Homo sapiens: one gene and its partners. The protein of the gene in region 5 purifies or fractionates together with the protein of the main gene of each other region. This does not show direct contact. Each region holds a gene or a part of one and is shown on either strand. Other genes may lie near its edges. The genes, in order: PRRC2C, FAR1, MAP7D1, HACD3, KLF15, RRP12 and AKAP8.

Region 1 (3,500 bases), on a different chromosome or scaffold from region 5:
TGTGTAGTGTTTCTGAAGATCATTCCAATTTAGGACTGAAGCATAAATCTGGTTTCCTTCTATTTAATTTAGCATGCTACGCTTACTCTTTGGACATATTCTCTGTATTCATTAGGGCATTTTGTAACCTGGTTCTGTACTCAATTGTATGCTGTAATTTAGTATTAGATGTTGAAATTGGTAGGTTCTTTTTTGAGATAGGAACTTGCTCTGTTATTCAGGCTGGAGTGCGTTGGTATGATCTTGGCTCACTGCAGCGTTCACCTCCCAGGCTCAAGTGATCGGCTTACCTCAGCTTCCTGAGTGGCTGAGACTACATGCGTTCACCACCACACCCCGCTAATCTTTGTGGGGTTTTTTGTTTTGTTTTTGTTTTTGTTTTTGTTTTTGAGACAGAGTCTTGCTCTGTCTCCCAGGCTGGAGTGCAGTGGCGCGATCTCAGCTCACTGCAAGCTCTGCCTCCCGGGTTCACACCATTCTTCTGCCTCAGCCTCCTGAGTAGCTGGGACTACAGGCACCCGCCACCACGCCCAGCTAAATTTTTGTATTTTTAGTAGAGACGGGGTTTCACCGTGTTAGCCAGGATGGTCTCGATCTCCTGACCTTGTGATAATCTTTGTATTTTTTATAGAGATGGGGTTTTGCCGTGTTGCCCAGGCTGGTCTTGAACTCTTGGGCTCAAGCAGTCTGACTGCCTTACCTCCCAAAGTGCTGGGATTATAGACGTGAGCCATCGTGTGCAGCCACTTGGGATGTCTTTATTGTAGAGTAGGTGTGAAGAAATTTAGGTGTATCTACAATGCTTATATAATATAGCTAGATGTAATTTTTCCATTAGTGAGATGTTTCTTTTTAACAGTATTTTAGGGAACATTTTTAAGGCCAAGATAAGGAGAAATACAATAATACAAAGTTAACTTTGAAATGGCGCACAATTGGTGATGACTGTAATAATTTATAGCCATACAGTTGGAACTTCCTGCCCTTTTATGGGCTATATTTTTTTGGTAATGTTTTATAATGTTTTATAATTATTTGTAATTAACTGGGACAGATAAGCTTACTCAAGTGTACTCTTTCATTCTAGGTGGAAATTACTGGTCTTGATGGATTAGAAATTCACATCAGCATGGTCTTAACTTTGTTTTTCCTTAAGGAATAAACTTCATTTATTTATTTCTATTTTTTATTTTTATTTTTTGAGAAGGGTCTCGCTCTGTCAGCCAGGCTGGAGTGCAGTGATGCAATCACAGCTCACTGCAGCCTTGACCTCCCAGGCTCAAGTGATCCTCTCACCTCAGCCTCCTGAGTAGTTGGACTACAGGCATGCAGTACCATACCCGGCTAATTTTTGTATTTTTTGTACAGACAGGGTTTTTTCATGTTGCCCTGGCTGGTCTCAAACTCCTGGGGCCCTAGTGATCCTCCTGCCTCCCAGAGTGCAAGGATTACAGGCATGAGCCACCGCTTCAGGCCCATTTTTTTTTTTTTAATGGAGTTTTGCTCTTGTTGCCCAGGCTGGAGTGCAATGGTGCCATCTCAGCTCACCGCAACCTCCGCCTCCCGGGTTCAAGCGATTCTCCTGCCTCAGCCTCCCTAGTAGCTGGGATTACAGGCATGTGCCACCACGCCCAGCTGATTCTGTATTTTTAGTAGAGACGGGGTTTCTCCATGTTGGTCAGGCTGGTCTCGAACTCCCGACCTCAGGTGATCCGCCCTCCTCGGCCTCCCAAAGTGAGGATTGGGATTACAGGCGTGAGCCACCGCACCCGGCCCTATTTATTTTTAATTGTGGCAGAAACCACTTAGAACATTAGATATATCCTCTTAACAAAAATTTAATCATATGGTACCATGTAGTTAACTGTAAGCAGTGTTATACAGCAAATCTCCAGAACTTTTTTTTATCTTGCATGACTGAAACTTTATACCTATTTCCTATTCTTACCTTTACCTATATTTCCTATATTTACCTTTACCTATATTTCCTATATTATACCTATACCTATATTTCCTATTTCCCCCTACTCCTAGCCCCTGGCAGCCACCATTATGGTTTCTGCTTTGATGAAGTTGATTATTTCATGTTCCTCATGTAAGATATTTGTCCTGACTGACTGACTTCACTTAAGCATAATGTCCTCAGGGTTTATCCATGTTGTAGCATATGACACTATTTCCTTCTTTTTTATCCCTGAATAATATTCTATTGTATGTGTATACCACATTTTCTTTATCCATTCAGCTATTGGATATTTAGGCTGTTTCCACCTCTTGGCTATTGTGAGTAATTCTCCTCTAAACTTTTTATATAGCGAGAGAAAGATTCTCATTATGGTTAAGAGTCATTGCTTTCTGTTTTAGAGGGATTATTTTGCTATATACTTACGCATGGGAAAGATTGCTTTGTTGATTATACCTTTGAATTCTTATCATCATAGGTCTGAAGCTGCGTTGGACCAGGAACAGATTACTGCTGCTTATTCTGTAGAACATAATCAATTAGAGGCTCACCCAAAGGCAGACTTTATCAGAGAATCAAGTGAGGCACAAGTACAAAAGTTTTTAAGCAGATCTGTGGAAGATGTTAGACCTCACCATACTGATGCAAATAATCAGTCTGCTTGTTTTGAAGCACCTGATCAAAAGACCTTATCCGCTCCTCAAGAGGAGCGGATTTCAGCTGTAGAAAGTCAGCCTTCCCGGAAAAGAAGTGTTTCCCATGGATCTAACCATACGCAAAAACCAGACGAGCAGAGAAGTGAACCATCTGCAGGCATTCCTAAAGTAACCAGCAGATGCATTGATTCAAAAGAACCAATAGAAAGGCCAGAGGAGAAACCAAAAAAGGAAGGCTTTATACGATCTTCTGAAGGACCAAAACCTGAAAAAGTATATAAATCTAAATCAGAAACTCGTTGGGGCCCACGACCAAGCTCTAACAGAAGGGAAGAAGTTAATGATAGACCTGTGAGAAGATCAGGTCCCATTAAAAAACCTGTACTTAGAGATATGAAAGAGGAACGGGAACAGAGGAAGGAGAAAGAAGGAGAAAAGGCCGAAAAGGTCACTGAAAAAGTAGTTGTAAAGCCTGAAAAGACGGAAAAGAAGGATCTTCCTCCTCCCCCACCACCACCTCAGCCACCAGCACCAATTCAGCCACAGTCAGTTCCACCACCAATTCAACCAGAAGCAGAGAAATTTCCTTCAACAGAAACTGCAACTTTGGCTCAAAAACCATCTCAGGATACTGAGAAGCCTCTGGAACCTGTGAGTACTGTTCAGGTAGAGCCTGCAGTTAAGACTGTAAACCAACAGACTATGGCAGCACCAGTAGTCAAAGAAGAAAAACAACCTGAGAAAGTCATCAGCAAAGACCTTGTTATAGAGAGGCCTCGACCAGATTCAAGACCAGCAGTTAAAAAAGAATCAACTTTGCCTCCCAGGACCTATTGGAAAGAAGCTAGAGAGAGAGATTGGTTTCCAGATCAAGGATACAG
Region 2 (2,589 bases), on a different chromosome or scaffold from region 5:
TACATTGCATTTAAATTGACAAAGAAAGTTAAGATGTAAAGCTCCATGTAACTTTTTGTATTGCGAACTGTTCTCTTTAAACATACTCCAGATACACTGCTGATTATCTAATACAGTACAACTTGATAAACTTAATTAGAAGTGTTATGCTGAACAATTTGTTAAATCAAATGTATGTTAAAACAGTAAGTAGAGTTAACTATTATGATTAAAAGGGAATTTTAATGTATCATTAAAATATACATCAATTTTCTTGCTATTACTTGTTTCTATAACGCATTTCTTTCTAAAGCTAAAATCACATGCATAAAAAATAAGTGATACCTTCAAACTCATTCAACAGTTTGCTACCTTATGTAGTATGTAAATAAAGTCCTTTATTTAATTTCGTACACATTATCTTAAGCATTATTTTATTTTTCTTGAAGGAATTCATCTTTCAAGGTCAAAATTAGTATGTGTTTACACACGAGTATATTTTTTAATGCTATTACTACCTGCAAATACATTCTTCCATAATAATGCACTTTCAGTTTTCACTGGAAAGATAGCACAAGCCTTTTAAAAGTCCTATGAATAAAATTTATAAAGGGAGGAGAACACAAGTATGGTGAATCCTTCCCAACTCCCACTTCCATCAAATCTCAAGAAATCCTCCTGCTTCAAAACATAAACAATCTCACAAGATTTTTATTTGATCATAATGTGGAAAAGAAAACTGTATTCCTATTCTTTTTGATACTAACAGTTTTACGGAATTTGTTTTCACTTTCTGTCAAAAAACACGTATGTTGCTGATATGGATTCTCAAACCCATTTAGATCGAATAGGGTCATTAGAATAATATAGCCTTCTGATTTTAAAAGCAACTGATTACTTATAGAAAAATGATATGCATCAGACGTTTAATCAGAAAAAGAAAAATGAGAACATCTCTTTCATGTTTGATATCATTTAACTTACAGAATGATGTGAAAATACGCTGGTTATAATTTTAAACAAAACTAAAACCCACTTCAACTAATGAAAAAAACAAAAAATGAAGAATCAAATATCTACCAACTTTGCTAGTATTACTGTCCAAATAAATGTCTTCCATTGCACTGAACATTAGAATTAGAAATTCACTATATGTTAAGGCATATTATTTTAATTAATATGTTCCAGAATTGCACAGTTATACTGGTCAGTGTTCCTATTTCCCCACTCTTGTCCTCAGCACACCCCTTTCTTCTAGGGCTCAAAATATTAAGTCATGGTTTTGGTGGCTACTGTAGATTTGAGCTGGCATAACACAGTGTGTTCACTAAGTTTTATGAGCATAAACATTAAAATGTTACATAAAATATACCATAATTTACTTCACACTCCGATCTAAGATGGTTTAATGTCTTGACAAAAAGTGAGATGACTTATACATTTTACATTTTGTACATTTAGATCACCATATGTATAGATGTTCTAATGCTGAATCCTTGGTCTTCAGTATCTCATAGTGCTGGATGCTCGGAAGTATGACAAAAACTTGTAACACAGACTAACCACAAAGTACCAGATATTTCTTGCCATTTGTGATCTTGCAATAAAAATGCGCCAGATGAGGATCACAAGGATAGTATTAAAACCATAACGTATATTCCGCAACCTGGAAAGCAAATCAAGAGATATGTTAGACAGTATTTTCTAGAAAAAAATATTGTTAGATGGCAGCTAATTAATACTGAGTTTTTAATCAAAGCTCAAATCCATATTAATTTGAAACTTATGATAGGCATTAAGTATACTGTAGGTAAAACAGATATGTACCTTGAATTTCTAGAGCTTCCCATCTAATCTAAAAAGGTTCATTCATTACATACATCACAGTACAGACAAAATAGAGCAAACTTTTTTTTTGACATCTTTAGTTGCTTACAAGTTGTCAGACAAGTAACTTACTCTTTCAGTTACAGGTGACAGTCACAAGATCAAAGGCCAAGTGGATAAGCCCTTATCCAAGCATAAAACATGGCATTAACTTGATAAAGGAGGATCCTCCCTTTTCTCAAAGAGTAACAATATGTTACTCTCATGTTTCAGCTCATGTTTCAAAAAATTTTGATGTTTCTGATGGTGTTTGAAAGAAATACAAACCTTTAGAGATGTAATAATGTTACATAAATTATACTGACCTCAGCAGGCAGTGCAAGATAGGACGGCAATGTAAGAAAAATGATGTAGAGAAAAGAGGTTCGAATATGGAGTCAAAGATCAATATTCTAGTTTGCTTTGCCACTCAATACAATATGGCTTAGGCAAATATAACTTTCCTAAGCCTCAATTTCCTCATCTATAGAACTGGCTGCCCTGCAAAGTCGCACAGAGTTATGAGGCATGAGAGGGATAATAATGTGAAAGTCTTAAAAAGTGTCATAAAAATCACATTAAAAAGCACTACAAATATAAGAGATTACCATTAAAAATTATCTGCATCTTTGAATGACAGATATAGCAAATATACCAGTTTACCAAAAAAATTGTGGAATATTTCATAAGGAAGACAAGAAGCAATCAAATCCATGCATCAAACTCACTTGTTCAGATGTTTTC
Region 3 (3,500 bases), on a different chromosome or scaffold from region 5:
GCCTGGCAGAGCCAGAAGAGAAGGCAGGGCTGAGGAGTACAGGGAAGGCTGCTGGGAGGAATGGAGCTGGGTCCAGGAATCAGGAGATCTACCTGTGACCTGCGGGGACTGCACCACAGCTTTCTTGAGGAAGGCTTCTGCCTCTGCAAAGGGCAGGAGTGTCTCTGGTGTTCGGCTCAGACTCTTGTCCCCAGAGGGTCCGTTGGTGGAGAAGCCATTCTCCTGGTGTGCTGGGAGAGGCTGCAGGCCATTCACCAGGGACGCTGGCAACTCCTTGCTTGGGAGACTGTGGATGCAGAGGCCAAGGCTCAGCACCTCACCTCCCAGGAAAGCCCAGGCCACCCCGCAGCTCCAGCTGCAGTCTGCCTCCCTGCTCAGGGACCCTGGGATTGGAAGCTGGTACCTCCACTGAGGCTCCTGTGGGATGGGCTCCTCTTTCTGCACAGCCTCCTTCTGCAGCCCTGGGGACCGAGCCTCCACAGCTTTCACAGGCTCTGTCACAGGGAAAGAGGGGCCATCAGCCAGGGGCTGGCAAGAGAGGTGAGGATGGAGGAGGAGGAGGATGGCAAAGGGAAGGGAGGCGAGAGGAATGGGGGCTTTACCTGGGCTGGAACCGTTGGCGTTGGCCTCCTTGCTGTCCTGCTTCTGCTTTGAAGAGGAAGAGCAGTCAGGCTCAAGGGACAGCCGGCCCCAGCCACTTCGGACTGAGTTCGGCCCTCCCCTTGCCCGGGCCGCAGCGGCCTCCCTGACAGCCTCGCTCTCCGTGGCCATGGATGCCTTTCCGCAGCCTCCTTTTCACACCCTGCCCCCCACGCCCAGCACTGCCCTTCGGGGGAATTCTGACCTTGGTTTCAGAAACTTCTGACTTCCGAGTCCTCTTCATGATCTCCTCCAGACGCTGTTTGGAGGCCGCAGATCAGTTAGGCTCGAGCCCCGCCCCTAATCCTAAACCTCCCACCAGCCAGACCCGGCCTCGGAGTCTTAGGGCCTCCCAGCTCATAGCAGCCCTCTCCAGGACAGGAACTGGAATTTGCCCCAGCGCTTTCCCGTCCTGTCCGCTCTAAGCCCAGGCCCCGCCCACCTGGCCCGCCCTGCCCAGGCCCCGCCCACAAATCCCCGCCCAGGTCCGCACACCTTTCTGCGCTCTTGCCGCTCTTGCTCCTGCTGCTGGAAGTGCTTTTCCCGCTCCAGACGCTGCCGCTCCGCCTCTTCCCGCGACCGAGCTTCGGCCTCCTCTTTCTGCCAAAGACCCCCATGAGCGTGGGGCACTTGACTCCAGCCTTCCCTCCCGGCCCGCGGCGCCCGCGCCCAGCCGCTTCCCGCCCGCCGGGGGCACCTGCTTCTGCAGCCGCTCCTGCTCCTCCTGCTCGGCCTGCGCCTTCTCTCGTGCCTCCTGCTCCTCCCGCCTCCGGGCCTCCGCCTCCCGCTCCGCCCGGGCCTCGGCCTCCCGTGCCAGCTGCTCCTCTCGCATTCGCCTGGGGGACGGAGCAAACGGCTCAGGCTCGGCCTCTGCTTCTTCTCCAGCGCCCACGAGGGCCCCCTCAGTCCCCGAGGCGCACTCACTTGTCCCTTTCTGCCTGCAGCCTCCGCTCCTGCTCCTCGCGCTCCCGCTGCTCCCGGGCCTGGCGCCGCTTCTCAGCCAAGAGCCGAGTGGCTTCTTCTCGGTCTGTGGTGCCGGCCATTGGTTTGCTAGGGGTCACCGGGGGAGCAGGGGCTGGGGGTGAGGTCAAGACAGCAGCGTCTGGAGGGGGATCCGGGATCAGGCGTCAGCACACCCACGCAGACACCGCCGTCATCTCCCAGCGGCCTGTGTTCTGGGCCTGGGACTGCTGAGGGCAGGAGTCTCCTCTTTCCATGTCCCACTCCCAGTCCTCAGGCATCTCTGGCGGCCCACACCCCCACACAGGAGAAGCTGGCTTCTCTCGCTCGGCCCACCCCTCCCCTCTCTTCATTCCTACCTGTAGGGGTCTCCGCGGGGGGCTGCTCCTTCTGGGGCGGGGCTGGGGTGGGCGAGGGCGCCGGCGAAGGTGCCGGTGAGGCTGGGGCTGCTGACTCCTTCTCGTTACTGGCCCTGCGCTTGCTCTGGCTCTTGTCCTCGGGCCCTGCGGCGCTGGGGCTCTCCTTTGCCTCCTCCTTCCTCCGAACCCGCCCCTTGGGGGATGCAGTGGTGCCTCGGGGGGACGGTGGCTTTGGAGGCAGAGTGTGGCCTGGCCCTGGGCTGGGGCAGGGGGAGGCAGGCCTGTGCCAGGATGTGGAGGGAGAGGATGGCCTGGCCTTGGATTTGGGGCTAAGAGAAAAGGGAAAAGGGAAGGGTTAGGAGACACACACACCCACACGCTGAGAACTTGTTCCTTCCTCTGGGAGGTGCCCCCTCCCCCAGGCTACATCAGCGCCGCCCCCCGCCCCCTTGCTCTCACAGAAACACACCATTCCCTTTTAGAGCATACACCCCAGTTTGTAATGACATGTTTCTGTGGGATTCTTTGATTATTGTATGTCCCCCGCCAATAGCCTGTAAGCTTAATAAGAGAAAAAACCATGCTTGGGTTAGCTCAGCAACGTGTCCTCAGCACCCTGAGTGCTACCTGACAGGTCCATTCATTCAGCAGGTTTTGTTGTTGTTGTTGTTGTTGTTTTTAAGACAGAATCTGGCTGACCCCCAGGCTGGAGTGCAGTGGCATCATCATACATAGCTCACTACAGCCTCGACCTCCTGGGCTCAAGCAATCCTCCCCTTGGCCTCCCAAAGTGCTGGGATTACGGGCGTGAGGCACTACCCTGGCCCTTCAGTAGGTATTCACTGAGTGGTTACCAGGTGCCAGGCACTATTTTAGGTGTTGGGGTACTTCAGTAACCAAAACACTTAAAAAAACAAAAACAAAAACGAACAAAAAGAAAAATGGAGGCTGGGCGGGGTGGCTTACACTCACACATGTAATCCCAGCACTTTGGGAGGCCAAGGCGGGTGGATCACCTAAGCTCAAGAGTTCAAGATCAGCCTGGACAACGTAGCGAAACCCCCACTCTACCAAAAATACAAAAAATTAGCCGAGCGTGGTGGCGCGCCTGTAGCCCCAGCCACTTGGAAGGCTGAGGTGGGAGGATAGCCTGAGCCTGGGAGGTCAAGGCTGCAGTGAGCCGAGATTGTGCCACTGCACTCCAGCCTGGGTGACAGAGGGAGATCCTGTCTCAAACAAAACAGAGAGAATCTGCCCTCAGGGAAGTTGCATTCTAGAGGTGGTTGCCCAACAAATATTTGTGGGTGATGAATAAATGACCCGGTGAGGGGCAGGGTCCCTCGCACCGCCCGCGCCCACCTGAGCTCAGAGGCGGTGCTGGCAGAGAGGCGGGCACGTGGGGAGGCGGGCAGCGACTGGCGCTTCTTGAGGCTGCGCTCCCGGGCTAGGGCACTCTTCTCCTTCTCGTTTTCCCGCTCCTTGTCCTTCTTCTCCTTTTTCTGCACCTGGCAGGGAAGGAGGAACGGAAGAGGAGAGTAGAGG
Region 4 (3,500 bases), on a different chromosome or scaffold from region 5:
GAAGCCTTCCCTGACCACTCTATTTAAAATAGCCTCTACCAATTATTCTCTATTTCATCACCCTCTTTATTTCCCTCATAGCACTTTATCTAGGTAATTATTTATTAACATATCTATTGTCTGTCTCCCTCAATCTGAAGGTAGTGCCTTTATATGTGTTGCTCATTACTGAATATCTAGTACTTAGCACTGTGCCTGGACCATTGTGAGTGGTCAACAGTTACCAGATTATTTAACTTACTGCTTTATAAGTAGTTTTTGTACTGTGGTAATAAACAGCTTAGACTTATTGATTTCTATTATTAAATATTTCAAGCAAAATCAAACAGAAAAATATAGCAAACACCACTATATCTAACATCCATTAGCATTTTGCTTTATTTGCCTCAATTTTTAAAAAAAGAAATAAAACAGAAACAGATACATTATACAATTTCTCAATCCCAATGCCCTCTCCCTCAAACATGCCCCAACTTCGCAGGTAACCACTACTCCAGGATTGGAGTTGGTCGTTTCCACTGTATTTATTTATTCATTAAAACACGTTGGGCATTCACAATATACAGTATGATTTGACATGTCACAAAAATAATTTCATACTGCCTATATCATTCTTCAACTTGCTTTTTATTTGATATTATATTTCTAAGCTTTAATTCTATAAAGATGGTTCTGTTTCATTCATTGTAGCTGTTGTACAGTGTGCCATTGTATAAATATACCACAATTTATCCATTCTTCCAGCTGACAAAAATTGAGGCTGTTTTCAATTTTTTGCTGCAATGAACATTCTACCTCCACCTGCATGTGTAAGAGCTTCTCTAAAAAGCAAAACTTCCAACTCATAAAGACATACAACTTCAGCTTGACAAGATAGTGTAAAACTGTTCTCCAAATCAATTGTACCAATTAGTACTTCCACCAACTGTATAAAAAAAGTCCGGCTGGGCACGGTGGCTCACGTCTGTAATCCTAGCGCTTTGGGAGGCCAAGGCAGGCAGATTACTTGAGGTCAGGAGTTCGAGACCAGCATGGCCAACATGGTGAAACCCCATCTCTACTAAAAATACATAAATTAGCAGGGCATGATGGCGGGCGCCCGTAGTCCCAGCTACTCGGGAGGCTGAGGCGGGAGAATCACTTGAGCCCAGGAGGCGGAGATTGCAGTGAGCCAAGATTGAGCCATTGCAATCCAGCCTGGGGTGACACGGTGAGACTCCATCTCAAAAAAAAAAAAAAAAAAAAAAAAAAAGTCCTGTCACTGAACATTCTCAGAAACACTTGGTCATGTCAGGCTTTTTCAATTTTCCTACTCTAATGTGAGAAACAGTATCCTATCATTTTAATTTACAGGCATACCTTGGAGCTATTGTAGGTTCTGTTCCAGACCACCACAATAAAGCTAATATCACAATAAAGTGAGTCACACAAAGTTTCTGGTTTCCCAGTATATATAAATGTTATGTTTATATTATACTATAGTCTATTAAGTATGCAGTATTATTCTAAAAAACAGTGTACATACCTTAACTTTAAAATATTTCATTGCTAAAAAATGCTAATGATCATGTGAGCTTTCAGGGAGTTGTAATCTTTTTGCTGGTGGCGGGTCCTGCCTCAATGTTGATGGCTGTGGACTGATCCAGGTGGTGACTGCTGAAGGCTGGAGTGGCTGTGGCAATTTCTTAAAGGAGGACAACAATGAAGTTTGTCTCATTGATTGAGTCTTTCCTTCACTAAAGATTTCTTTGCAGCATGCAATGCTGTTTGATACTGTTTTACCCAGAGAATAATTTCTTTTAAAATCAGAGTATACTCTCAACCCCTGCCACTGCTTTATTAACTAAGTTTATGAAACAGTATAAACCCTTCATTGTCATTTCAACAATGTTCAGAGCATCTTCATCAGAAATAGATTCCATCTCAATAAATCACTTTCTTTGCTCATCCATAAGAAGCAACTCCTCATCCCTTCAAGTTTTATCATGAGATTGCTGCATTCAGTCACACCTTCAGGCTCCACTTCTAAGTCTAGTTCTCTTGCTATTTCTACCACACCTGCAGTTACTACCTCCACTGAAGTCTTGAACCCCTCAAAATCATCCATGAGGGTTGAATTCCACTTCTTCGAAACTCCTGTTCATTTTTATATTTTGACCTCTTCCTATGAATCACAAATGATCTTAATGGTATCTAGAATGGTGAATCCTTTCCAGAAAGTTTTCAATTGACTTTGCCCAGATCCATCACAGAATCACTACCTACGACAGTTTTAACCTTACGGAAAGTATTTTCTAAATAAGACCTGAAAGTCAAAATTATTCCTTGATCCATGGGCTGCAAAAGGAATGTTATGTTAGCGGGCATGAAAACAACATTAATCTCCTTGACATTTCCATCAGCACTCTTGGGTGGGACTAGGTGCACTGTCAATGAGCAGTAATATTTTGAAAGGAATATACATATATATATATATATATATATATATATATATATATATATATTTTTTTTTTTTTTTTTTTTTTTTTCTGAGAAGTTGGCCTCAACAGTGGGCTTAAAATATTCAGTAAACCATTCTGTAAACAAATGTGCTATCATCCAGGAGTCGTTGTTCCACTTACAGAGCATAGGCAGAGTAGATTTAGCATAATTCTTTTTTTTTTTTTTTTTGAGACAGAGTCTCTCTCTATTGCCCAGGCTGGAGTGCAGTGGTGCGATCTCAGCTCACTGCAACCTCTGCCTCCCAGATCCAAGCGATTCTCCTGCCTCAGCCTCCCAAGTAGCTGGGATTAAAGGCGCCCGCCACCATGCCCAGCTAATTTTTTTTATTTTTTAGTAGAGACGGGGTTTCGCCATGTTGGTCAGCCTGATCTTGAACTCCTGACCTCAGGTGATCCACCTGCCTCGGCCTCCCAAAGTGCCGGGATTACAGACATGAGCCACCATGCCCGGCCGATTTAACATAATTCTTAAGGGCCCTAGGATTTTCAGAATGGTAAAGGGGCACTGGCTTCAACTTCAAGCCACCAGCTGCATTAGCCCCTAACAAAAGAGTCAGACTGTCCTTTGAAGCTTTGAGGCCAGGCATTGACTTCTCTCTAACTATAAAAGTCCTCCACGGCATCTTCTTCCAGTAGAAGGCTGTTACATTGAAAATCTGTTGTTCAGTGCAGCCACCTTCATCAAGGATCTTAGTTAGATCTTCTGGATAACTTGCTGCAGCTTCTACAATCAGCACTTGTAGCTTCACCTTGCACTTTTATGTTATGGAGCCTTTCCTTAAGCCTCATGAATCAACTTCTGCTAGCTTCAAATTTCTCTTCTGCAGCTTCCTCACCTCTCAGCCTTCATAGAATTGAAAGAGTTGGGGCCTTGTTCTGGATTAGGCTTTGGCTTAAGAGAATGTCGTGGCTGATTTATATTCTATCCAGACCACTCAAACTTTCTTCATATCAGCAATATGGATATTTTGCTTTCTTATCATTTGGGTGTTCACTGGA
Region 5 (3,500 bases):
GGCACATTCCAAATCTTTGCTGCTGTGGCTGCTGCTACGTGTGTGAGACGGGGCACACTCATCTGTATCCCTGGGGGTGTATACAGGCCTGGGCCTCGCCAGCAGGTGTGTGGCTGTGTGTGTGCACACCCACATGTGTATGCATCTTGCTTTCTTTGTGTCTGTCTGTGCCGTGTGACCATATGTGTTTGCACACATACATGTCTTAGGTGTTTGTGCACCATGTGTGGCTGCCTGTGTGTGCATGTGTTATGTGTGGGTGCAACACCCGGGGAGCAGTTTGCAGCTTTTGTTTTCTTGACCATACTCTGGTTCTGAGAGCTCTTGAGAGTTGTCTGGGGCAGAGGTTCTGGCCAGTGAGGCTGAGCTGTGGTCAGGGAGCTGTGAGTGGAATGTATGTTGTGGCACTGGTGCCACCTTTCCATTGAGTGCCAATCTGGCCAGAGAAGGGAATTTTCCTGAACAGTGTCTAGGTTTATGGAGGCCCCTCCTGAGTGAGGACATCACTCTGTCCTGTCTCCCACCCCATTCAGACAGACCGGAGAGGCTTCTGTGAGAGCCCACCCTGGGGCCTCACAAGGTCTCCATCCTGGAGTCCCCACCTCTCTGAGCTTTGTACCTAGGCCTGCCGAGTGGGTGCATGGCTGACAGGTTGCTTGTGAGAGGAGGACACAGCAGCAAGTACACTGCATAGGAGGTTAGAGGAGCCGAGAGAAGGGCCAGGAGTGCTCTTGATTGAAGCAGGAAACTTGTGCAGAGAAGGCGAGGGCACAGGTATGTGGGGGCTGTGGTCTTGAGCCTACGCCTGGGTCAGCCACTAACTTGTCATGTGCCTTTGGGGTGGTCCCCCTCCAAACCTCAGTTTCCTGTCTGCAGAGTGGAGGGCTAGCCCTTTGCAGCCCAGGGCAGGCGTGCAGGGCTCCACAGCGGCCTCCTTGTTGTTTGTACATCATAAGGATACAAACTCATACACGGCAGTTTCTGAGGAGGAACCCTGAAGGCATTCTCTCCAGCCCCCAAGAGGGTGGTGCCTATTGTGAAGGGACCCCCTACTCCCAGGGACCCTGTATGCACTCTCCTCTTGGTGAGGGCGGGCAGGGGCTGCAGAGAGGCAGGGAAACCTCCCTCCAAGCACCAGTCTGGACTCCTTAGTCGGGCTCAGGTTTCAGCGCCGTCTCCTGGCCATAGTCGACCGTTGGCAAGTAGCTCCTCTAGATGCCGTGAGGCTGGGTAGGGTGATGGGGAGGGCAGGTGTGGTCCTCATCCAAGGCCAGCCTTCTTCCTGGATATCTTAGGGCCAGAGAGCTGATAGGCCCCTCAGCCCAAAGTGTATCTCAGTGAGGCAGATCTTAGTTCTCTATACAGTGGCCTCAGGAGGTAATGAGTTCCTCATGGCAGGGGGTGTACATGAGAGAGTGGGGACCTGTGGAGGGGATTCAGCTCTGACACATCTGAGCCCTGGCACTGGTCGTGCTGCCCAGGACCCACTTGGCAAGAGAAGGTGTAGTGGTTGCCTGGCCCAGTGAGATCACAGTGGCACTGCCCCCAGGAGCTGTCCCTGCTGCCAGCCATGCCCCGGGCTTCCTGAGGGCTCCTCCAGCTTCCCCCAAGGTCCCCTGGAGTGGGTCTGGCCCTGGTGGGGTAACTCATGGCAGAGGCGCTGTTCGGCTGGGAGCTGAGGACACCGGCCTCTAGGGAGGGCTGCTTTTCTGAGGATGCGGGGAGTCCTCAGCTGGCTTTCAGGGATCTTGAAACCCTGGGGATGTGCCCAGTCTGCTTGTGTCTCTTAATGTGGTGATAGTCTTCAACTGAGAGGGAGCCCCTGCAGCTCCTTACAGCAGTCAGGAGGGAGGATGGACCCCGCTTTGGGGCAGCTGGGTCTGGACAGGACTGGAAGGGTAACGATGATGATGGTGAGATGGCGTATTTACTGACCACTCACTGTATGCTGGGCACTATTCTAAGTTTCTCAGAGCTGGAATCCCCTCCGCCCACTATTGTAACTTGCATACTTCCTGCCATGGGGAGCTCATTACCTTCTGAGGCCTTTAAGTGTACTTTGCTGTGCTTCAGTTTCTATTCAAGCTTCTCGTTCTGGCCCATAGACCCACACAATGTGCTTACCTGTCTCTTCCCCTTACTGAGTGGGATCCAGCCACGCTGGCCTCCCTGCTGTGGCTCAGGCTCCCGCGTGGGCATCCGCCCTCTCTGTGCCCTCTGTCTCAAATGACCCCTGCCCTTGAGGCTGTAGTGACAGCTTAAGGTTTTCGCATTAGCTCATCAGGTCCTTGTAACTGCCTGGTAAAGTGTAGGCACCAATCTTCATTTTACAGAGAGGGAAACTGAGGCACAGACTGCTCACGTCACATGCCCACAGGGACATAGCTAGTGAGCAAGGATCTGGGTTGCATGACTAAGCCCTAGCAGAGCCCTGCTCTGGCCACCTGGTGGTCCTAGCTGGTATCAGAGTCGCCATGTGTGCCTCCAGTCTCCCACCAAGAGGTCGGCCCAAAAGGCATTATGCTTCTGGGCTATGGGAAAAGAGCTAACGACCACAATCGAGATAATAACCAGGGCCTCTAATGCATACTTGGCACTGCTCTGAGCAAAATTCACACATATTAATTTACGTAATTCTCAAAATTAGTAGGCATCAGCATGTTGTCCCTATTTCACAGAGGAGAGAATTAAAGCACAGAAGAGTTAGGTAAATTCTCCAGTCAGCCAGCCAGTAAGCCCCAGAGCCAGGAGTTCAGCTGAGGCTGTCTGCCCAGAATCAGGGACCTCCCTCTGCACCCCGGTGTTGGGTGCTAACTCTGGTGTTGGGAACCTCCACCTCCATCTGCAGCTCAGCCTGGTCTTTGGGGTGGCAGCTCTACACACTCACCTACTCCCCGTGGGGGAGCTCTCCACTCCCAGGCCGCGTCTCTTCTTCCTGGTGGCCTAGATGAATGGGATGCTCTTTCTGCCCAGGCTGGCTCTGGCCTAGTACCATGTCCTGTGCTCGGAGAACAAGCCAGGGCCCCTCAGGCCCCTCATACCTCTGTGTAATGGACAGTGCCCTCCCTCCACTGCTGAGGTCGTCACCTGCCCAGGTACTCAGCCTCCACTTCCTTCTGCTTTTGGTCCTAAGAGTACTCCCTGTCCCTTCTCTGGTGACATGATTTTGGCACCCTCAACAGGGCTGAGAGCAGGCTTTCCCTGTTCTGATCCAGCCGTCTGGGAAGTGCTGCTTGCCTGCCTTCCTAGAAGTTTCCTTGCCTCACTGTCAGACATAGGCATCCTTTGTTCCTTGCAGCAGAACGTCCTGTTCCAGAATGGCCAAGCCATTCCATCCAGAAAGAATCCCTTCTGCTGCAGTGAATATGAATATGAATAACTGTCATCAGCCTGTAGGGTGGGTACTTTTGTCGTCCACAGTGGATGTGGTGGGGGACAGAGAAGGGGAGTTCCAGGCTCCTCTTGAGCGTCAGAGCCAAGAGGTGGTAGGTGCAGGATTC
Region 6 (3,500 bases), on a different chromosome or scaffold from region 5:
TAATGGTGGCAAAGAGGTTGAATTCCTGGGCTTAGGAGACTGGAAAACCAGGGTTCAAATTCCTGGTTTGCACAGACTGAGTCCTGTGACCCTGGGCAGGCTACTTACCTCTGTACGCTCCTCTGGTCACTGGGACAACGGAGTCCCTATCTTCGTGAGGCTATGTGGGGCCCTCAGCACAGTGCTGGGCACACAGCCATGCTCCCCTACGGTGGATGCCCCCACCCCATGCAGGAGCACACAGGGAAGCTGCTGCCCTTGCCCCTGCATAGCACATGCCCTCGCTAGAGAGACAAGGGTCTCTGCCTTCTTTCTCCTTTAACTAGACAACCATCACCCTGTCCTGCCTGGCACCCACAACCTTCTGGACCGCCTGCTATGCACACCTGTGAGGATGCACCGAGCATTCCAGAAACAGGGCAGTTCCAATGTCTACGTGTGGTGGGGGTGAGAAGCTGTGGAGCCCAGGCTTAGGTCTGAAGCCCTAGCCCCCCATCTGCAGGAACTACTCACATTCCTGATGATCACATCTTCCATTGGGTCAGCCATCTCTTCATCTTCGCCTGGAGCCAAAAAAGAGAGGCCCATGAGCGCTGTGGGAGCTCCTCAAAACCTACCCTTTCCTTCTGCCCCCTCCTGGCTCACCAGGCTGCGGGGCCACCAACTCCGGCCCCAGAAAATTGCCTTCCTCAGACCAATATCATCCTTCTGCTAGAAGAGATGAGACCCCTGAGCACTGCCCCTTTCTCCTTCCCACCCTAGGCCCTAGGGATAACGGCCCCTCAAAGAAGCGGTGATCCTACTTTTGAGGTGAATATGGCTTCGTTTGAAACTTTTCTTTTCCCACTCACCCACCCTTCATCTGTTTGAGATTTGAAGAAAGCCCCAGGTTTCCGGGGGAGTCAGGCGCTCCTGCAGCCCCATACACACCCCCACTGTGCCAGGAAGGCTTCATTCTCCTGTTTGAAATCTCTGCCCCATGCAGTATGTGCTGGGCTCCATGTGGGAATATAAAGTATGAAACTGACCAATTGGAGGGAAGAGAAACTCAGGCAAAGTCAATCAACAACCAAAAGACGATAGAGAGCACGTGACCGGCCATGTGTGGTGGCTCACACCTGTAATCCCAGCACTCTGGGAGGCCGAGGAGGGAGGATCACCTGAGGTCAGGAGTTCAAGACCAGTCTGCAACATGGCAAAACCCCATCACTACTAAAAATACAAAAATTAGCTGGGCATGGTGGCGCACGCCTGTAGTCCCCGATACTTGGGAGACTGAGGCAGGAGAATCACATAAACTCAGGACATGGAGACTGCAGTGAGTCGAGATCGAGCCACTGCACTCCAGCCTGAGTGACAGAGCGAGACTCTATCTCCAAAGAAAGCACATGACCAAGGGCTGAAGACTGGGTTTCCTCTGGGCTTGGCAGGAGTTCTGGGGGAATCAGGCCTAAAGGCTGAGGTGCCCAGGAAGGGCTACAAAAGGAGCTTTGAGCTGAATCCTGAAGAGCAGGGGGGTTTGGAAAGGCAGAGAGAGAGGGGAGGGGTCCTGACAGCCTCAGGAATGCCTGGGCACCAAGGGGGACAGGAGATGGGAAAGTATACAGGGGCGAGAGAGGAGCAGAGAAGACACTAGACACGGAAATATAACAGGCACATGTACACCAAGTACATACGCTGTCCCCATTACACCGATTCATCTTCATTCCAACCCGGAAAAGTGGGTATTAGGATTGTATGATATCCACTCTGAAGCAAGGAAACGGAGCTAAGGAGAGGCTGACCGAGCGGCTGCAGTCGTGTGGCTGGTGAGTTGGGTGCATGTGGAGCAGTGAGGCTCCAGTTAGGAGGTGCAGTGAGACAAGGGCCCAGAGCTCGCAGCACTGGGAACCAAACAAAGGGATGACAGGTGTGTTCTTGAAGACCTAGGTGTTTTTTTTTTTTTTTTTTTGAGACAGAGTTTCGCTCTGTCACCCAGGCTGGAGAGCAGTGGCACAATCTTGGCTCACTGCAAGCTCTGCCTCCTGGGTCCACGCCATTCTCCTGCCTCAGCCTCCCGAGTAGCTGGGACTACAGGCGCCCGCGACCACGCCCAGCTAATTTTTTGTGTTTTCAGTAGAGATGGGTTTTAACCGTGTTAGCCAGAATGGTCTTGATCTCCTGACCTCCTGATCTGCGCGCCTTGGCCTCCCAAAGTGCTAGGATTACAGGCGTGAGCCACCACGCCTGGCGAAGACCTAAGTGTTTCTTAGCTAATGGCTGGATATGTGGAGAGGGGCCAGGAAAGACTAAAGAGAGCTCCGAGATGCCACACCGGAGGGACTCCCGGGCAATGTGAGACATTGGGATTGGGAAGTTGGGAGGGTTTCAGCCTCTGGCTCTTTCTGCCTCTAAATCATCTTCAGGGCCTTAGCCAAGTTTGCATTAAAAAAAAAAAAAAAAGAGGAAGGAAGAAAAGGAGAAAGGAAGAGGAGGGGGAGGAGGAGGAGAAAAACAGAAGAGACTAACAGCGTATCACACACAGTAAGGGGAAGTACCATTTCCGATAGTTTCCTTTAAGTTAAATATGTATTGTATAAATGGCTCGGTTACAACATAAAAAGATTTCTTAATGTTTCTCAAAAAAAGTTTGAGAAACTCAAAAAGTTTGAGGAAGCTGCCGAGAGAAGAGTTTCTCTGGTCTGTTTTTAGCCACGCTTCCTCAGCAAGTGATCACCGAAGGAATAAGTGAACACGGTGAATGAATGGACAAGCGCGTTGGGCCCACCTTTGGCACCTTCCTCTTCCTCCATCTTGTTGCCGTCTGCCTCCTCCCTTATGATCAGCCGGCCATCGGCGCTCACCTTGAAGCCGTGGTCCTTCTTCCTGCCCCGGCCTGGCCCTGGCTGCGTGGCTGGGGTGTAGAGTTTGGCATGAGGAGGTGGAAGGCCAGTCCCATGCTACTCACCCTCATCATGACCAACAAGCCCGGCTCAGGGATCCCAAACGGGCGCCTCTCAGCCCTGTCCATGGGCCTGCCATGGATGCCACCCCCTACCCACCACCTGAGAACCTGGCACCATGGCAAGTCTGTTTTCTGAGTGCACTGGCCAGCCCTGTGCTTACCCAGGACTCGTTGGGCCACCTTGGGATCCAGGAAGTTGAGGGGCTCGTCCCCACCGCCCTCTTTCAGCCATGCCCGGCTCCTCTGTCGTGCCAGCTTCCGCTGCTCCTTGCCTCGGCTTCTTTCCTCCTCCTCATTGTCCTCCTCGTCCTCTGAGTCAGCTAAAATCTCCTCAATGCTAAGGACAAAAAGCCCCCAGTCAGAGTGCTCCCAGGAGAGGCGGGGGTCAGCGGGTATTGCCTGGGCAGGCCCTTGGGTTGGGGGGACACCGGGTCCCATGGCCCTAACATGGTCTCACCTGTCACCTTTGCCCTGGGCGGGCTCCTCCTCCTCCTCCTCCTCTTCTTCCTCCTCCACGGCAGCCTGGCTCAGGGCTCGGTGCCTCTTGGCCCGGGCC
Region 7 (3,500 bases), on a different chromosome or scaffold from region 5:
TAGGGGTCTTTCTCTGTTGCTTGGGCTGTTGAACTAGCCTCAAGAGATCTTCCTGCGTTGGCCTCCCAGAGTACTGGGAGAAGGGTATAGAGATGACATTTTTTTTTTACTACTTTTTGCTTTTTTTTTTTTTCTTTTTGCTTTTTTTTCATCTTGTATGTTCTTCCAATGAACAGGTGACTTTTTTTAAAAAAAAAAAAAGAAACCTTCAGAGTGTGCGCTAGTGACTGAGGATCTTTTTCTTTTTTTTTTTTTTTATCCTTTGAGATGGAGTCTTGCTGTGTCACCCATCCTAGAGTGCAGTGGCACGATCTCAGCTCACTGCAACAGTCCACCTCCTGGGCTCAAGTGATCCTCCTACCTCCGCCTCCCAAGTAGCTGGAATTACAGGCGCCCGCCACCACACCCAGCTAATTTTTGTACTTTTAGTAGTGACGGGGTTTCACCATGTTGGCCAGACTGGTCTCAAACTCCTGACCTCAGGTGATCCACGCACCTTGGTCTCCCAAAGTGCTGGGAGTACAGGCATGAACCACCGCGCCTGGCCATGACTGAGGATCTCGAAGGGACTTGGAGGAATTCTCACGGGGAGGCAGAGGTGTAGCAGGGAAGCACACAGCTCATCAGTAGCTTCCTGACAGTGCTGTGTATGAGCCCCGGGAGATTGTCCCCTCCCCGCCTACGTAGGGGCTGTCTGCAGAAGCGGAGGTGTCTTCATGTTGCTTGTCAGAGGTCAGAAGCCAGGCATGTGGAGTTGGCAGAGGTGAAGTCCTGAGTGCCACAGGGCCTGCACCCCTACACCAGAAGGGGCAGGAGCCTCCAGGAGAGAGCCAGGGAGGGAGCACCCCAGTGTGGTGGCCTGGGGGCCTGCAGGCTGCTCTCCCTTGCCATGCAGCGTGGTTGCATTTGGGGAGACTTTGAAAGCCTGTGACAAAGAAGCCTCACTTTTTATCTGTAGAATTTGATGTGACATGTCTTTACGTGTAGTCTCATGGCAGAACTGATACTGGGTTTTGTGTTTTGAATTGTGCGAGGTGTTTTGTCTGCACGTAAAATGAGGTTGCCTTATGTCATCCCAGTTCCTGCAGAGAGGAACTCATCTGAGAAGCTGTGAAGCTAGATGCTGGGCCCCAAGAGCTGCCAGCCAGAGCCTAGGGCGTCCCCAGTTCCAAGCAGTTGCAGCTTTCTGGTGTTTTCTCAGGGGCTTTGGGGCCAGAGGGGCTGCAGTGCCAGCAGATTACTATGCGAGTCATTTTCCTGAGATACCTGCAAGCCTGTGTTCCCATTCTTCAGCTGGGGAAGTTTGGGTAACTGCCATTCTGTTGCCCTTTGGGAAGTCGGAACTCTTGGTTCAGCAGCCACTTTCCCTGGCTGAGTGCGGTGGCATGCACCTCTAATCCCAGCTACTTGGGAGGCTGAGGTGGGAGGATCGCTTGAGCCCAGGAGTTTGAGAACAGCCTGAGCAATACAGTGAAATCTCATCTCGAGAAAAAGAAAAGTCTGGGTGCGGTGGCTCACGCCTGTAATCCCAGCACTTTGGGGAGGCTAAGGCAGGTGGATCACCTGAGGTCAGGAGTTCGAGACCAGCCTAGCCAACATGGTGAAACCCTGTCTCTACTAAAAATACAAAAAAAAAATAGGCTGGGCGCGGTGGCTCACGCCTTTAATCCCAGCACTTTGGGAGGCTGAGGTGGGTCAATCACGAGGTCAGGAGTTCGAGACCAACCTAGCCACCATGGTGAAACCACGTCTCTACTCACAATACAAAAATTAACTGGGAGTGGTGGTGGGCGCCTGTAATCCCAGCTACTCGGGAGGCTGACGCAGGAGAATCACTTGAACCTGGGAGGCGGAGGTTGCAGTGAGCCAAGATCGCACCACTGCACTCCAGCCTGGGCAACAGAGGGAGACTCCGTCTCAAAAAAATAAATAAATAAAATAAAATAAAAATACAAAAATTTAGCCAGGCTTGGTGGCGGGCCCCTGTAATCCCAGCTACTCGGGAGGCTGAGGCAGGAGAATCGCTTGAACCTGGGTGTTAGAGGTTGCGGTTAGCTGAGATCGCACCATTGCACTCCAGCCTCGGCAACAAGAGCAAAACTCCATCTCCAAAAAAAAAAAAAAAAAAAGGAAAGAAAAAAAATTACTGAAAATCCTGTTTCTTTTTTTTTTTTTTTTTGCCCACTGCCAATTTATTTATTTATTTATTTATTTATTTATTTATTTATTTTTATTGATCATTCTTGGGTGTTTCTCGCAGAGGGAGATTTGGCAGTGTTTGTGTCCCTGGGTACTTGAGATTAGGGAGTGGTGACGACTCTTGGCATGCTGCCTTCAAGCATCTGTTTAACAAAGCACATCTTGCACCGCCCTTAATCCATTTAACCCTGAGTGGACACAGCACATGTTTCAGAGAGCACAGGGTTGGGGGTAAGGTCACAGATCAACAGGATCCCAAGGCAGAAGAATTTTTCTTAGTATAGAACAAAATGAAAAGTCTCCCACGTCTACCTCTTTCTACACAGACACAGCAACCATCCGATTTCTCAATCTTTTCCCCACCTTTCCCGCCTTTCTATTCCACAAAACCGCCATTGTCATCATGGCCCGTTCTCAATGAGCTGTTGGGTACACCTCCCAGACAGGGTGGTGGCTGGGCAGAGGGGCTCCTCACTTCCCAGTAGGGGCGGCCGGGCAGAGGCGCCCCTCACCTCCTGGACGGGGCGGCTGGCTGGGCGAGGGGGCTGACCCCCCCACCTCCCTCCCGGACGGTGCGGCTGGCCGGGCGGGGGGCTGACCCCCCCCACCTCCCTCCCGGACGGGGCGGCTGGCCGGGCAGGGGGGCTCCTCACTTCCCAGTAGGGGCGGCCGGGCAGAGGCGCCCCTCACTTCCCGGACGGGGCGGCTGGCCGGGCGGGGGGCTGACCCCCCCCCACCTCCCTCCCGGACGGAGCGGCTGGCCGGGCAGAGGGTCTCCTCACTTCCCAGTAGGGGCGGCTGGGCAGAGGCGCCCCTCACCTCCCAGACGGGGCGGCTGGCCGGGCGGGGGGCTGATCCCCCCACCTCCCTCCCGGACAAGGTGGCTGCCGGGCGGAGACGCTCCTCACTTCCCAGACGGGGTGGCTGCTGGGCGGAGGGGCTCCTTACTTCTCAGACGGGGCGGCTGCCGGGCGGAGGGGCTCCTCACTTCTCAGACGGGGCGGTTGCCAGGCAGAGGGTCTCCTCACTTCTCAGACAGGGCGGCCAGGCAGAGACGCTCCTCACATCCCGGACGGGGCGGCAGGGCAGAGGTGCTCCCCACATCTCAGACAATGGGCGGCTGGGCAGAGACGCTCCTCACTTCCCAGATGTGATGGCGGCCGGGAAGAGGCGCTCCTCACTTCCTAGATGGGATGGCGGCCGGGCAGAGACGCTCCTCACTTTCCAGACTGGGCAGCCAGGCAGAGGGGCTCCTCACATCCCAGACGATGGGCGGCCAGGCGGAGACGCTCCTCACTTCC

What was found.
Region 1: the proteins of KLF15 (region 5) and PRRC2C purify together in Homo sapiens (affinity purification with mass spectrometry; one large-scale study listed by BioGRID and IntAct). This does not show direct contact.
Region 2: the proteins of KLF15 (region 5) and FAR1 purify together in Homo sapiens (affinity purification with mass spectrometry; one large-scale study listed by BioGRID and IntAct). This does not show direct contact.
Region 3: the proteins of KLF15 (region 5) and MAP7D1 purify together in Homo sapiens (affinity purification with mass spectrometry; one large-scale study listed by BioGRID and IntAct). This does not show direct contact.
Region 4: the proteins of KLF15 (region 5) and HACD3 purify together in Homo sapiens (affinity purification with mass spectrometry; one large-scale study listed by BioGRID and IntAct). This does not show direct contact.
Region 6: the proteins of KLF15 (region 5) and RRP12 purify together in Homo sapiens (affinity purification with mass spectrometry; one large-scale study listed by BioGRID and IntAct). This does not show direct contact.
Region 7: the proteins of KLF15 (region 5) and AKAP8 purify together in Homo sapiens (affinity purification with mass spectrometry; one large-scale study listed by BioGRID and IntAct). This does not show direct contact.

Annotation. Positions count from the first base shown.
Region 1 is NC_000001.11:171,537,530-171,541,029, forward strand, and holds part of PRRC2C (protein PRRC2C), read left to right. Parts: intron 1-2,441; coding exon 2,442-3,500. UniProt on the Homo sapiens protein: Required for efficient formation of stress granules.
Region 2 is NC_000011.10:13,727,668-13,730,256, reverse strand, and holds part of FAR1 (fatty acyl-CoA reductase 1), read right to left. Parts: coding exon 2,574-2,589; intron 1,646-2,573; coding exon 1,483-1,645; 3' UTR 1-1,482. UniProt on the Homo sapiens protein: Catalyzes the reduction of saturated and unsaturated C16 or C18 fatty acyl-CoA to fatty alcohols. It plays an essential role in the production of ether lipids/plasmalogens which synthesis requires fatty alcohols.
Region 3 is NC_000001.11:36,176,660-36,180,159, reverse strand, and holds part of MAP7D1 (MAP7 domain-containing protein 1), read right to left. Parts: intron 3,464-3,500; coding exon 3,318-3,463; intron 2,288-3,317; coding exon 1,959-2,287; intron 1,742-1,958; coding exon 1,564-1,741; intron 1,476-1,563; coding exon 1,337-1,475; intron 1,240-1,336; coding exon 1,135-1,239; intron 899-1,134; coding exon 845-898; intron 649-844; coding exon of another isoform or gene 646-648; coding exon 603-645; intron 495-602; coding exon 404-494; intron 287-403; coding exon 93-286; intron 1-92. UniProt on the Homo sapiens protein: Microtubule-stabilizing protein involved in the control of cell motility and neurite outgrowth. Facilitate microtubule stabilization through the maintenance of acetylated stable microtubules.
Region 4 is NC_000015.10:65,536,963-65,540,462, reverse strand, and holds part of HACD3 (very-long-chain (3R)-3-hydroxyacyl-CoA dehydratase 3), read right to left. Parts: intron 1-3,500. UniProt on the Homo sapiens protein: Catalyzes the third of the four reactions of the long-chain fatty acids elongation cycle. This endoplasmic reticulum-bound enzymatic process, allows the addition of two carbons to the chain of long- and very long-chain fatty acids/VLCFAs per cycle.
Region 5 is NC_000003.12:126,347,409-126,350,908, reverse strand, and holds part of KLF15 (Krueppel-like factor 15), read left to right. Parts: intron 1-3,500. UniProt on the Homo sapiens protein: Transcriptional regulator that binds to the GA element of the CLCNKA promoter. Binds to the KCNIP2 promoter and regulates KCNIP2 circadian expression in the heart. Is a repressor of CCN2 expression, involved in the control of cardiac fibrosis.
Region 6 is NC_000010.11:97,363,341-97,366,840, forward strand, and holds part of RRP12 (RRP12-like protein), read right to left. Parts: coding exon 3,402-3,500; intron 3,282-3,401; coding exon 3,106-3,281; intron 2,894-3,105; coding exon 2,768-2,893; intron 564-2,767; coding exon 514-563; intron 1-513.
Region 7 is NC_000019.10:15,362,788-15,366,287, reverse strand, and holds part of AKAP8 (A-kinase anchor protein 8), read left to right. Parts: intron 1-3,500. UniProt on the Homo sapiens protein: Anchoring protein that mediates the subcellular compartmentation of cAMP-dependent protein kinase (PKA type II).